Linked DNA regions of Homo sapiens: regions 1 and 3 are each linked to region 2. The links come from fine-mapping of genetic effects on gene expression. A gene starts in region 2. Each other region holds a variant in brackets. All regions are shown on one strand. Distances are between the middles of the regions.

Region 1 (4,137 bases), 38 kb after region 2:
TTTTAATTAATGGAGAATTGAGGCTACTAAACACATACTTCAAGGTATGAAAGGAAATTTGAACCACTGTTAAGAATTATTCTGGAGAATAAAAGGATCTGAAGGTGGCATCAAGAGAATCACCCATCTCCATATATGGGAGCTACTCTAGAAAGAAATGCAAAAGGTATATTTCAGTAATCTTTTCCCAACTTCTCTGTTCCCCTGACAATACTGAGATCAACAGAAGCATTGGAAGGTTTCTTTTAGATAATAGTGAGAGATACAGGCAGATTGCTAGCCAAATACAGCTCTGGGTTACTGTGATAACACAGGTTCCTTCGAATGTATTTATTTTCCCAAATTAAAAATAAGCAGGGATGGAAGTAGTTATTATGCATTTTTCAAATTCTCCTTTCAACAGTCTATATAAATGTTGCAGAATGCTAGACTAGGATGAAAAGTAGGAGTCATGAGAACTGCAGAAGCCTGAGATCCTAAAGGAAGTCCGTACCATCTGACTTGGCAATGTAAGACACACACGTTAGTGTGGGGCACAAACGTGGAATATTAGGAGAGAGCTGGTTCCAGCACCAAATCCAGAGTCACTCGGGGAAGGAGGTATGGTGGCAACACTTTATGCTTAATATTCAATTCTGCTCCAGTAGAACATGGTACCCAGGAGAACCCAAAACTGGAATAGAAAAAAACAAGGAAAAATAAACAAGGGATTGTTTTAGAAACATCTCATTCTTGGAAAAAGTGGATGTTAGGTTCATTCAGGCTTAGGTGACAACAGATTTTTTTGTTTGTTTGTTTTTATTTCTTCTAAAAAACCAAAACAAAAACAGGATACATGTACAGAACGTGCAGGTTTGTTACACAGATGTACGTGTGCCATGGTGGTTTGCTGCACCTGTTGACCCATCCTCTAAGTTCCCTTCTCCTCACTCCTCACCCCTCAGCAGGCCCTGGTGTGTGTTGTTCCCCTCCCTTTGTCCATGTGTTCTCATTGTTCAACTCCCACTTATGAGAGGGAACATGCAGTGTCTGGCTTCCTGTTCCTGTGTTAGTTTGCTGAGGATGATGACTTCCAGCTTCATCCATGTCCCTGCAAAAACATGATCTCATTCCTTTTTATGGCTGCATAGTATTCCATAGTGTGCATGGACCACATTTTCTTTATCCAGTCTATTGCTGATGGGCATTTGGGTTGGTTCCATGTCTTTGTTAGATATCAGATTTTTTTTTTTTTTTTTTTTTTTTTTTTGAGACGGAGTTTCGCTCTGTCGCCCAGGCTGGAGTGCAGTGGCGCGATCTTGACTCACTGCAAGCTCCGCCTCCCGGGTTCACGCCATTCTCCTGCCTCAGCCTCCTGTGTAGCTGGGACTACAGGCACGCGCCACCATGCCCGGCTAATTTTTGTATTTTTAGTAGAGACGGGGTTTCACCGTGTTAGCCAGGATGGTCTCGATCTCCTGACCTCGTGATTTGCCCGTCTCGGCCTCCCAAAGTGCTGGGATTACAGGCGTGAGCCACCACGCCTGGCCTAGATATCAGATTTTTAAGAGTAATCTCGTTATAAGCAACATCACTGGGCCAGATGTGACACCAAATCCATCCTGCTCCAAAGCATCACTTATTACCTGCCACTCAGAAGCAACTTCTGTGTTCCCCACGTTCTGATCCCAGTTCTCATCCTAGATTCCTTGTCTTCTGGGGTTGCCCTTCTCGTCTGTGCTAAACTCTTTTTGCCATCAAGGCCACTTATCCTCCAATGCCTTCCTGTTTCTAGTATGTACCATTTCGGGGTAAGCATTCCTTGCTTCTAGTATTAAACTTCTCCCAGGGAACTTCTATTTTTTCCTAAAATGCTTGTG[C/A]CCTGGAATGGCTGCCTCTGAAGAATGCCACAGAACTCAAGATATCTGACTTAGGCAAGGGCTGAGTTTTATTTTAGTTTATTTGGGCTCTGTTTTAGATCTGGTACTTACTCCTGGGTAACTTTAGCCAAGTCACTTAAATTTCCTGAGCTTCAGTTTCTACATTTATAAAATAAATATAACATCTCTACCTACCCCAAGCTAGAGCAGTGAATGAGATAATGAAATAATAACAGGGTCTAATGTTTATTAGAATACCTTATTATGCATCACTCACTATTCTAAGTGTTACCCATATAACTGAAGTTAATGCTTCCAAAACCCTATGGAGAAACGGAGGCACAGAGAAGTAACTTACCCAAGGTCATAGAACTAGTAGGTGGTGGAGGTGGGATTCAAACCCAAGCAGTCAGCTTCAGAGCTTATCTAGTTAATCACTAAGAAAAAGCCCCTTGCAAGCAACAGTGAAATGGGCATGCTTAAGAGCTCTTATTAAGCACAATTCTTGAGAGCCCCACTGAATTTCTCTGCTCCTTGTAAGACAGGACACTGGCTACCTGCTTAGCTACTGTTGTGGGGATTTAATATTAAAAATATTTGACATGGTACCTTGTTTATAGCAGGCCCTCAATACATTTAATCATTTAATTCCCTTCCCTTCCCTTCCCTCTTTTGAATTTCAAGAGGGAATTAACTAGATCTAGAGTTTATTTGATACTTGTGGAAAATCAAGGGTTACAACTGGTTTGGAGTTCTAAGATACTCAAAGCCTTTAAACATTATCCCACAGTTCCTGCTAATATGGCACAAATAGAAACTTCACTGTTACCTTTCATTCATTCAACAAATGCTTGAGCCCTTACTACATGCTATGCTTGGCACTGGGGGTACAAAGAACAGCTAGTTCTCAGCTTTTTGCAGTCAAATACATCATCATGGAGAAGTTCCATCATAGAGGTGTGCTCAGGATGTTGTGAGAGCTCCTAACAGGTTGGGTTGAGGGATCATAAAAGACCCCTTGAAGGAGTTGATTTCCCTCTCCTTCCTGCCTCACTCAGTTTATCACCCCCTAAGCTAGCATTTCTTAAAGCATAGTGATATGGTTTAGCTGTGTCCCCACTCAAATCTCATCTTGAATTGTAGCTCCTATAATCCCCACATGTCATGGGAGGGACTCGATGGGAAATAATTGAATCATGCGACCGGGTTTTTTTCTGTGCCGTTCTCGTGATAGGGAATAAGTCTCATGAGATCTGATGGCTTTATAAAGGGCAGTTCCCCTGCACACGCTGTGTTGCCTGCCGTCATGTAAGACATGCCTTTGCTCCTACTTCGCCTTCTGCCATGATTGTGAGTCCTCCCCAGCCATGTGGAACTGTAAGTCTATTAAACCTCTTTTGCTTTATAAATTATGCAGTTTTGGGTATTTCTTCATAGCACTATGAAAATGGACTAATACACATAGTAAACACCTGAGGGACAGTTCAGAAGTCCATTATGTAAGGCTATCTGAATAACAATGAGAATTTATTTGCCTTTTTCACTGTTTTCATATTTGCACTGATGGTGTAAATGCAGTGGGAAGTAAAACTCCTGGAGTATTAGCAAGAATCAAGGCAGAGTCACTAAACTTTGTTAGTGATCATTGTGTCTTCACTGCTACGCACTTGCAGTAAAAAAAAAAAATTTAAAAAGCCAGTTTCACTTGAGATTGTCCTCAATGAAGCAGTAAGAACTACTAATTTTATTACATTTTGGCCTTTGAGTACACATCTTTTTAAATATTCTGCATGACAGAAAGGAAGTATTCATTCATAAAACAGTCTGTTGCATAGTGTAATATGGTTGTCTTAAAAGCACTTGCATGATTAAAAGGAAACACCACTTTTACTTTAAAAAATGATGAACAGACACGCTATGGTTGTTTGGACTTGGACATGTGGCAGATATTTTCTTGAAAATTTACAAAGTGAGTCTGTCACTTCAAGGAAAACAACTGACAATATTCATTGCCAATGATAAATTTGAACTTTCAAGCAAAAATCAGAACCTTGGAAAACTTGTAGTTGTCACCGTGAACTTGATAGCATTCCATTGCTTAAGGTATTTTCCATGTGGCAATATCAATGCCACATGTGATTTTCTGGATATTGCATACATAAATCAGTTAACATTTGGAAGATCTGCATAACACAATGAACTAATATTTTTTCCAAATAAGCAATCTATGATGTTATAGAATTATAAATGGCTGAAAGATATATGCAAAGTGCAAGAC
Region 2 (4,137 bases):
GCCCCCCACCTCCCGGACCAGGCAGCTGCCCGGCGGAGGGGCTCCTCACTTCTCAGACAGGGCGGCCAGTCAGAGACGCTCCTCACCTCCCAGACGGGGTGGCGGCGGGGCAGAGACACTCCTCAGTTCCTAGACGGGTCGCCGCCGGGCAGAGGCATTCTTCACCTCTCAGACGGGGTGGTGGGGCAGAGGCGCTCCCCACATCCCAGATGATGGGCGGCCAGGCAGAGACGCTCCTCACTTCCTAGACGGGGTGGCGGCCGGGAAGAAGCGCTCCTCACTTTCCAGACTGGGCGGCTGGGCAGAGGGGCTCCCCACATCCCAGATGATGGGCGGCCAGGCAGAGACGCTCCTCACTTCCTATACGGCGTGGCAGCAGGGCAGAGGCTGCAATCTCGGCACTTTGGGAGGCCAAGGCAGGCGGCTGGGAGGTGGAGGTTGTAGCGATCCGAGATCAAGCCACTGCACTCCAGCCTGGGCAACATTGAGCACTGAGTGAGCGAGACTCCGTCTGCAATCCCGGCACCTCGGGAGGCCGAGGCTGGCAGACCACTCGCGGTCAGGAGCTGGAGACCAGCCCGGCCAACTCGGCGAAACCCCGTCTCCACCAAAAAATACGAAAACCAGTCAGGTGTGGCGGTGCGCGCCTGCAATCCCAGGCACTCGGCAGGCTGAGGCAGGGGAATCAGGCAGGGAGGCTGCCGTGAGCCGAGATGGCGGCAGTACAGTCCAGCCTCGGCTCGGCATCAGAGGGAGACCATGCAAAGGGGAGACGAGGACCGTGCAAAGGGGGGAGGGAGATGGGGAGGGAGACAGAGAGGGGGAGGGGGAGGGGAAAAGCTGAGTGATTCTTGCAAAAGGTATATATTATGCTTCCAGGCATCATATGCTCAAGACCTGGGGACTATGTGGGTATAAGTAACTGATTGTATAACGCCACTGGATGAAATCCAGTAATGTCCTTTTTCACTAAATGTGGTTATACACCCTTACAGCATGTTACAAAGGGAACACAAAAAAATAAGTTTCACACTGGACCTTGTTCAGGAGCAGTGTTGACCTATTTCACTGACCTATCCTCAACTGCCACTAGGTGGCCCTCTTTTCCAGCTTCCAAGGGCCTACATTGGGCCTATGCGGCCTCAGTATAGCCTCAGATTTCCTGCTATGAAGCTTAATGAGCCCAGCACTGGCTCTAGCTATGGTTTGTTCCTTTTTGGGTGGAGTGGATGTGTGGTTCTTGGAGAATCTACTACTTTCCCGTGAGTGCAGTGGGAGACTGCATTAGAGAATCTAGCTATCCTGACTGCCTAAACAGAGCCTACCATAATTTTTCACTCAAATCTTTAGTGTAAATATAATTGTCTTTGCTTTCTGTAATAATATCTTTGAAGAAATACGGATTTAAAAAAATCATTTAATATTCTCAGACCTGCAACATGGGAAAAATATTATTATTATTATTATCATTTTTGCAGTTGAGAGGGCTGAAATCTCGCAGGGTGATTAAGTTTATTAGCCTCTCTAAAGTCTCAGTTTCCCACTCTGTAAAATGGAAGGGTCCCTATCTCTTTCCTACTGCTTTGTGAGTATTTAAGGGGATGGAATTTGGGAAGCGCTCAGCACCCAGTCTACTATTGGCACAGGGTTTTAAAGCCACCCAGAGGCCGAGGCGTCAACCCTCCGTTTCCCTCCCGGTGCTCCTTCCAGCGCCCGGTGTGGTCGATTTGGCGGGGGTGGAGCGCCAGGCGCGTGCAGAGCCGGGCGGACCAGCCTCTCCGGCCAAGGCGGGAGGCGGAGCTCGTACTCAAGAGCCGCCTCCCGGGCGGCTGGGGCGGTCCCCGAGCTGCTTTCCGCGTTCTCCCCTCTCCGCGGGCAGTGCTAGCTCGCCGCGGCCGCCTCCGGGGTGAGTACGCTGGCTCCGCCGGCGCCCGGGAAATGCAGTTCCCTGGACACGGGCGCCGTGCGAGGGTAGCCGGGCGACGGCCGGGGTCAGTCCCAGGGCTGTAGCGGGGCGGGCGTGGGGATGACGTGGCGGCGTCCGTGGGGCAGTCCCGCCTCAGCCGGAGCGGTGGGCCGGGCCGGGGGCCTACGGAGGCCGAGCCTGGCGGGAGGCACCGGCTCAGGTGCTGGCGTTCCGCGCGGCGCCGCCTCTGCTGCGGGCCGGGGGAGCCAGACGAGGTGCTGCCGGGTAGGAAAAAATCCAGGGCTCATTCATACCCCAGGTCACGATTCCGGGGTCGCCCCCAGCACTTCTCCGCCGGGTGCATCAACCTGAAAAAGCCCCTTCTTCCTGGAAACCCTCCTTCTCCAGCGTTTCAACGGGGAAACTGATCAGCTGACACCAGCCCCAGTCCTGCGAGGGGCCGGCGACCTTTGACCTTTCTCCAAAGGGGTTGGTCACCTGGATTATAAAAGACTTCGGAGACAGCCATCCAGTGTTTGTTGATCTGTATCCCTTGATGTTCTGTCTTCCATTAGATAAGGGCTGTTAATTCTTGGTTTGAAAAAAAACAGACAAAGTCCAAAGGACTCTGCATCGAGGAGAGGCCTATGGGTTGGTAGCCTTAGGAGAGTAGTTATCAACAGTGGGTGGGTGTGCACACTGTTGCAAAGTGTTCCAGAGTGGGTGAGGGATGGGGACGTGGCGGTGGTGAGGGTACTGGTAGACCTCCTCAGCCGTTTGGTGATGAAAAGGAGGAAAAAGAAAATGGTAATCTGAGCGTGGAGGCGAGTTGTGGCTTTTTTTTTTTTTTTTAAATTTTTAAAGAAAGGAAAATAACACCTTTAAGATGCAAGAAAATCAAGGAGAGATCAGGATGAATAGGATTCAGGGTCCGGATTGAGAAACTGGGATTCAGAAGGGAGGGCTATTCCCGAGACCCAGGCGGGGAGTGCTGGAAGGTCTCTCTTGGGAGAGGAGATAATGCTTGATTGGATATAGTTCAGAAGTTTTTGGAATTTTGTCTTCTAGAGCAGGTTTGTTCTTTATGGAAATTGTAAACCCCATGAAATTGCAATAACTTTCGTCTACCTATAGCTTTGATCAGATTGAAAACATACGTTGTGAAAAAGTACTGACCTGGATTGAACTGTTTGACTACATAATCTAAGGGGAAGTGGATAGAGAGGGCAATAAAATCAGCTCTGTGGTTGTAGTTTATATGCCACTTAATATAATAAGTATTTAGTATCTACTTTAAGCCGAGCTAATAGTAATGCCTGCCTTTTCCAGAGATGCATGCAAATGTTTTGGGAACTAACCTTCTCTTTGAAGATCTTTTATTCAGTGGAAACATCCAAAGCAAATCAGTGATGGTTTTCTATTCTTTGTTTTAAGCCATCAGTGAACAGTGGTTTCTAAAACCTGGCTGTGTGACTCAGAGTTACCTAGGTTCTCGATAAAAATATAATTTTTTTTTTTTTTTTTGAGATGGAATCTGGCTCTGTGGCCCAGGCTGGAGTGCAGTGGCACAATCTTGGCTCACTGCAACCTACACCTCTCAGGTTCAAGCAATTCTCCTACCTCAGCCTCCCGAGTAGCTGGGACTACAGGCCCAGGCCACTACTCCCGGCTAATTTTTGTATTTTTAGTAGTGATGGGGTTTCACCATGTTGTCCAGGCTGGTCTGGAACTCCTGACCCCAAGTGATCCATTTGCCTCCCAAAGTGCTGGGATTACAGATGTGTACCATGGGCCCAGGCAAAAATATCAATTTCTTGACTCCACTTCAGGCCTTTGAAATAAAAATCTCTGGGGCTGGAGCCTGGGAATAGGCATTTCAAACACAGACCACAGTGTTCTCTGGCACTGAAGATTACTAACAGCCTCTGAAGTTTTTCTTTGAGATTGGGGCTTTTTGGCCTATTTAGAACAGGTTTTCTTAAAGGTTATATGAATGAATTGTCAAACTTATGTAACTAAAAGTTATAATTCCTGTCTGTGATGTTATCTTTAAATTTTAATGTACAGTCGTCCTCCTTATTCTTGGGGGATATGTTGCAAGACTGACAGTGGATGCCTGAAACCGTGGATAGTGCCAAACCCTATATACGCTGTTTTTTTCTATATATGCATACATATCTATACTAAAGTATAACTTATAAGTTAGGCACAGTAAGAGATGAATAATATCT
Region 3 (4,137 bases), 31 kb after region 2:
TTATTGTATGACACCTCAACAGTTAAACTTTAACAAGAATGAGTGCCAGCCAGGAAGTTTAAATAATATCTAATCCTTCCCAAGCAGGGAGAGAGGGAGTAGGAAGTTTGGTGCTCCTAAGATAAAACAGGAGTTGTCACCACCCAAGTGGGGAAGGAGAATTTGAAAGGACAATACACTTCATAGGCATGAAACGTTTACCTAGGGCTAGCTTGGTTTAGCTTTTAACTCAGCACAGGGAGCAAAAGAGCAAAAGTGGTTATTTTTCTTTTCCTTTTTTTTTTTTTTTTTCTTTTTGCGACAGGGTCTTGCTCTATCACCCAGGCTGGAGTGCGGAGGTGCAGTCTCGGCTAACTGCAGCCTCCACCCCCCAGGCTCAAGTGACAATCCTCCCCCCGTCAGCCTCCTGAATAGCTGGGACCACAGGCGCACACCACCATTCCCAGCTATTTTTTTGTATTTTTAGTAGAGATGGGGTCTCACCATGTTGCCCAGGCTGGTCTTGAACTCTAGAGCTCAAAATCAATCTGCCTGCCTGGGGTGCCCAAAGCGCTGGAATTATAGGTGTGAGCCACAGTGCCCGGCCATGTTTTTTTCTTTACTTAGCAGAGAAATACTCAGGGTTTTCATGTTTTTTGCTCAAACTTTGTAAAGGAGCTTCATTCTTGGGAGATTTGCTAATGAGGCTGTAGTCTGTTGAGTAAATCTCTCCCTCACTGTCCCTTCTCTTTTCTGTAGAAACTTTGTCTAGAGCTCTCTCCCAATTTGCTTGACTATGACCATATTAACAGACGGTAATTGAGAGGTTGTAGGTCCCTCCCTCATCATGGTTGGGAAGGGCAATGGAAGAGAATGGTGTGTGCAAGGAATTTGAAGATCTGTATTTGAGAACTCAATTTCTTACTCAATGGAAATGGAGTATAGCTAGTACCATGCAGAAACTCTCTTGTGTTTTTTTGACATCTGCAATTTTTTAACTGTTGGAAACCACTGAATGATGCCTTTTATTTTTCTTCAGGTAATTCTTTCAACCAAGATAATCTAAAAGTCCCTTAAATGACTTGTTATGGAACTTCTTGAGGTGGAAGATAGTTTTTTAAGACCTTGACACTGCCATTGTGACACTTTCCCTGCACTGGGGCATCAAAGGCTGGTGACACGGGGCATGAGGCCGCCTGCCCACTCACTGCTGCCTCCCTCCCTGCTCTTGCCTCCCCACTGGGCAGGGGGTTTGGCTTCAAAGGAACTGGCTTCCTCCAGTTCCTGCCCTGTGCATTTTCTCATAGTTGCCAAAGAGGCCTACTGTTTTAAATATTGTAGAGACAGCTATGCCTACTATAATTGCTAAGGATTATGTGGGGGCAGGCTATTTGGATATCACAACTACCTAACACAAAGAGTGTGTTACTTTGAAGTTTTCATTGATTTTTTTTCCTCACCTATACTGGCATTCATTTCTATAGTGCTTTGCAGTTTGTGATATCTTTACACACACTTTATTGGTGCCGCTTACTCTTTTTTTTTTTTTTTTTTTTTTTGAGACAGAGTCTCACTCTGTCACCCAGGCTGGAGTGCAGTGGCAC[A/G]ATCTCGGCTCACTGCAACCTCCACCTCCTGGGTTCAAGTGATTCTCCTGCCTCAGCCTCCCAAGTAGCTGGGACTACAAGCATGCCTCACCATGCCCGGCTAATTTTTGTGTTTTTAGTAGAGACGGAGTTTCACCATATTGGCCAGGCTGGTCTTGAATTCCTGACCTCAGGTGATCCGCCTGCCTCTTCCTCCCAAAGTACTGGGACTACAGGCGTGAGCCAATGTGCCTGGCCGATGCTTCTGACTCTTGAGGTAAGAGGGCAGTTGAGTAAGTTGAGTAAGTAGAGGTCTCAGCCAGGAGGGTGCCTTGCCAGGAGTCTCACAGGCAGCAAATGGCAGATTCTGAGCAAAACTCGGGCCCTTTGACTTTCAAGACCATTACATCATATTGCCTTCTTCTTGGCTTCTCTACTTCTTTGTGGTAATTTTCCTGAATGTGTGTCATTGTCTTAATTCCTACAGAGAGTTAGTATTGTCTGGACCCTGGAAAGTGCATTCCTGTTCTCAGCTGCTCTCAGAACTTTGTCCCCAACTCCATCTGTAATTTTTCTGCCCTTACCCCCATCACTTCCACTCAAGCCCCAATGGATAGATTTCCTGGGAGCCCCAAAATGCTCTGTGAATGGACTTGAGTGAGATAAAAGACATTTTCTCCCAGACTTGAAATTCACTTTCCCCAATCCTATTCATATATGCAGTCCCTACCAAAAACCATTAACATGTTCTGCAAGATGAAGCATATTCAGGTACATTTCATAAGTTCTTTTTCACCAATCACATTCTATAACTTAAAAAAAAAACCCTCTATCCTTAGTGCCTTCGATATTTTATGCTATTTCTACCTTCGTTGATTTTTTTGTATATGCATAACCATCTTATACCTGCTGAGAGGGCCTGATCATTCTAAAAGTATACACAAGGGAGTGGTTTAGAGGTTCCACCCCTAGGAAGTACACCTGTACAGGTAAAGCCTCCATTGTTCCATTGATAATTGTTAAGATTTAAATAAAATTATCAAACCTTGTGTGCCCATGTGTGGAGTGTGAGTGTGTGTGTGTGTGTGTGTGTGTGTGAGAGAGAGAGAGAGAGAATGAGAGAGAGATGTGGGGGCTTGGAGCAGAGGTTGGTGAAGGGTGGGACATAATAATAAACTAAGTGCTTGCTCTGTATCAGTTTCCTTGATATAACCTCCTGATTGGCATCTCTTATAGACCGATGCACACTGTACGTATCTTACTGAATCCTCCCAGTCCTGTGTGAGGAGAGACCAGTTTTTCTGAAGCAGGCTCCAAGAAGCTAAGTGACTTGTCAAAGAGCTGGGATTTGGAGCCAAGTACTTTGACTCCAGAGTTCATGTTCTTAACCACTTCATGGTGATGGATAAATAAATACACCTACACCAGGAAGGAATAAATACATCCTATTTCCTAGAGGAAATAAGGATTGGAAGACTAACTTGGAGAGTGTCAATGCTCTTCAGCCAAAACCCCCCAGGAACACATTGCAGATAAATTAATTGGGTTAGAGTTGATCAAAGGGTACAAAATTTCAGTTGGAGGAATAAATTCAAGAGCTCTATTTTGAAAAAAATTGGGATTGTGACTAGTTGCAATCGTTGCAGTGAGTGAGAACACACCATGGGGGATCCATGAAGCAACTCAGTAGAAGGAAGTTAGAATTATTACAGCATTTGGGCTTTGGTTGGGTCATTTGGGGAGGGTCCAAGAAAGGGTTTGCTCTGTTGGATATTATCAGAAAGCAGGGGCAAGTCCATGGTTGTTTATTTCAATAAGTTTTATTTGTAGGGAGGGAGACTAGCAAGAGAATAAAGCTGTAATTGGGAAGACATAGCAGTCACTAATTTTAGCCAAGAAAGCAGGTGTTTGGTTTTTTGTGGGTGGCACAGTGACCTTGTTTTTGTCTATGCATAGACAAAATTATGCAGTGGCCTTGGCTTGCCTCGTTTTGTCATGGTCTCAGAGTGACCCTATGAGGCTGGTATTCTGTGAGATTGTTTATGTCTAACAGGAGAATAGTTGAGCCTAGTTGTGAGTGCCTCACCAGCATCTGTTGCTCTGTAGTTCTTTTTCAAGAGGAACTCAGGGTAGAAACCACTAGAAAGTAGGGCATGACAGTACCATTTCTCCAAACTCCAGGATTTGACTATTTGTGTCTTAACAATGTGGAGTGGGGGCGTGTGCTGGGGGAAGGGTTGGTTGGAGAAGTGTATGGGATCTCTGTTTCTCGGCAAGGCTGCCTTTCTCTACAATGTTTCTGGATCCCTTTACGGGATCTGGCCACTTGAGCCTTATAATACAATAGCAAACTCAGTAGTCTATAGCTACCCTTCTTTGGGGTTCTTCTTTGATTCAGTCTCACTTATACAGGCTGAGAAGGATCTGGAAGAGACACTAGAGGAAATACTAGACCCAGAAGGAGAAAGGAAATTGTTCCATCAATAGAAATGAGAAACCAGCTTAGTTTCTAATTCCTCAACCACAACACAGGTTGTCAGATTGGTTGGGGTGGGGGTGTGAGATTGAGAGGAGG

The links. PIP is the estimated chance that this variant, and not a neighbour inherited with it, causes the effect.
Region 1: its variant is the best candidate, but not a certain one, in a credible set for the expression of B4GALT4 in monocytes (BLUEPRINT, PIP 0.59).
Region 3: its variant is the best candidate, but not a certain one, in a credible set for the expression of B4GALT4 in T cells (TOPMed, PIP 0.84).

The regions. Positions count from the first base shown.
Region 1 is chr3:119,200,453-119,204,589 of GRCh38, reverse strand. It overlaps UPK1B (uroplakin 1B), which reads right to left. Exons shown (of 8, transcript NM_006952.4): 8 at 1-673. The coding sequence ends at 623. Among named protein-coding and RNA genes, the nearest start is that of B4GALT4-AS1, 24 kb to the left of the region's middle. The variant C/A (reference allele first, on the strand shown) is at 1,860.
Region 2 is chr3:119,238,619-119,242,755 of GRCh38, reverse strand. B4GALT4 (beta-1,4-galactosyltransferase 4) reads left to right here and starts at 1,878. Exons shown (of 8, transcript NM_003778.4): 1 at 1,878-1,906. The region is part of intron 3 of B4GALT4-AS1 (B4GALT4 antisense RNA 1); the gene reads right to left. RefSeq lists silencers at 1,012-1,061, 1,712-2,191.
Region 3 is chr3:119,207,325-119,211,461 of GRCh38, reverse strand. No RefSeq gene overlaps it. Among named protein-coding and RNA genes, the nearest start is that of B4GALT4-AS1, 17 kb to the left of the region's middle. RefSeq lists an enhancer at 4,064-4,137. The variant A/G (reference allele first, on the strand shown) is at 1,584.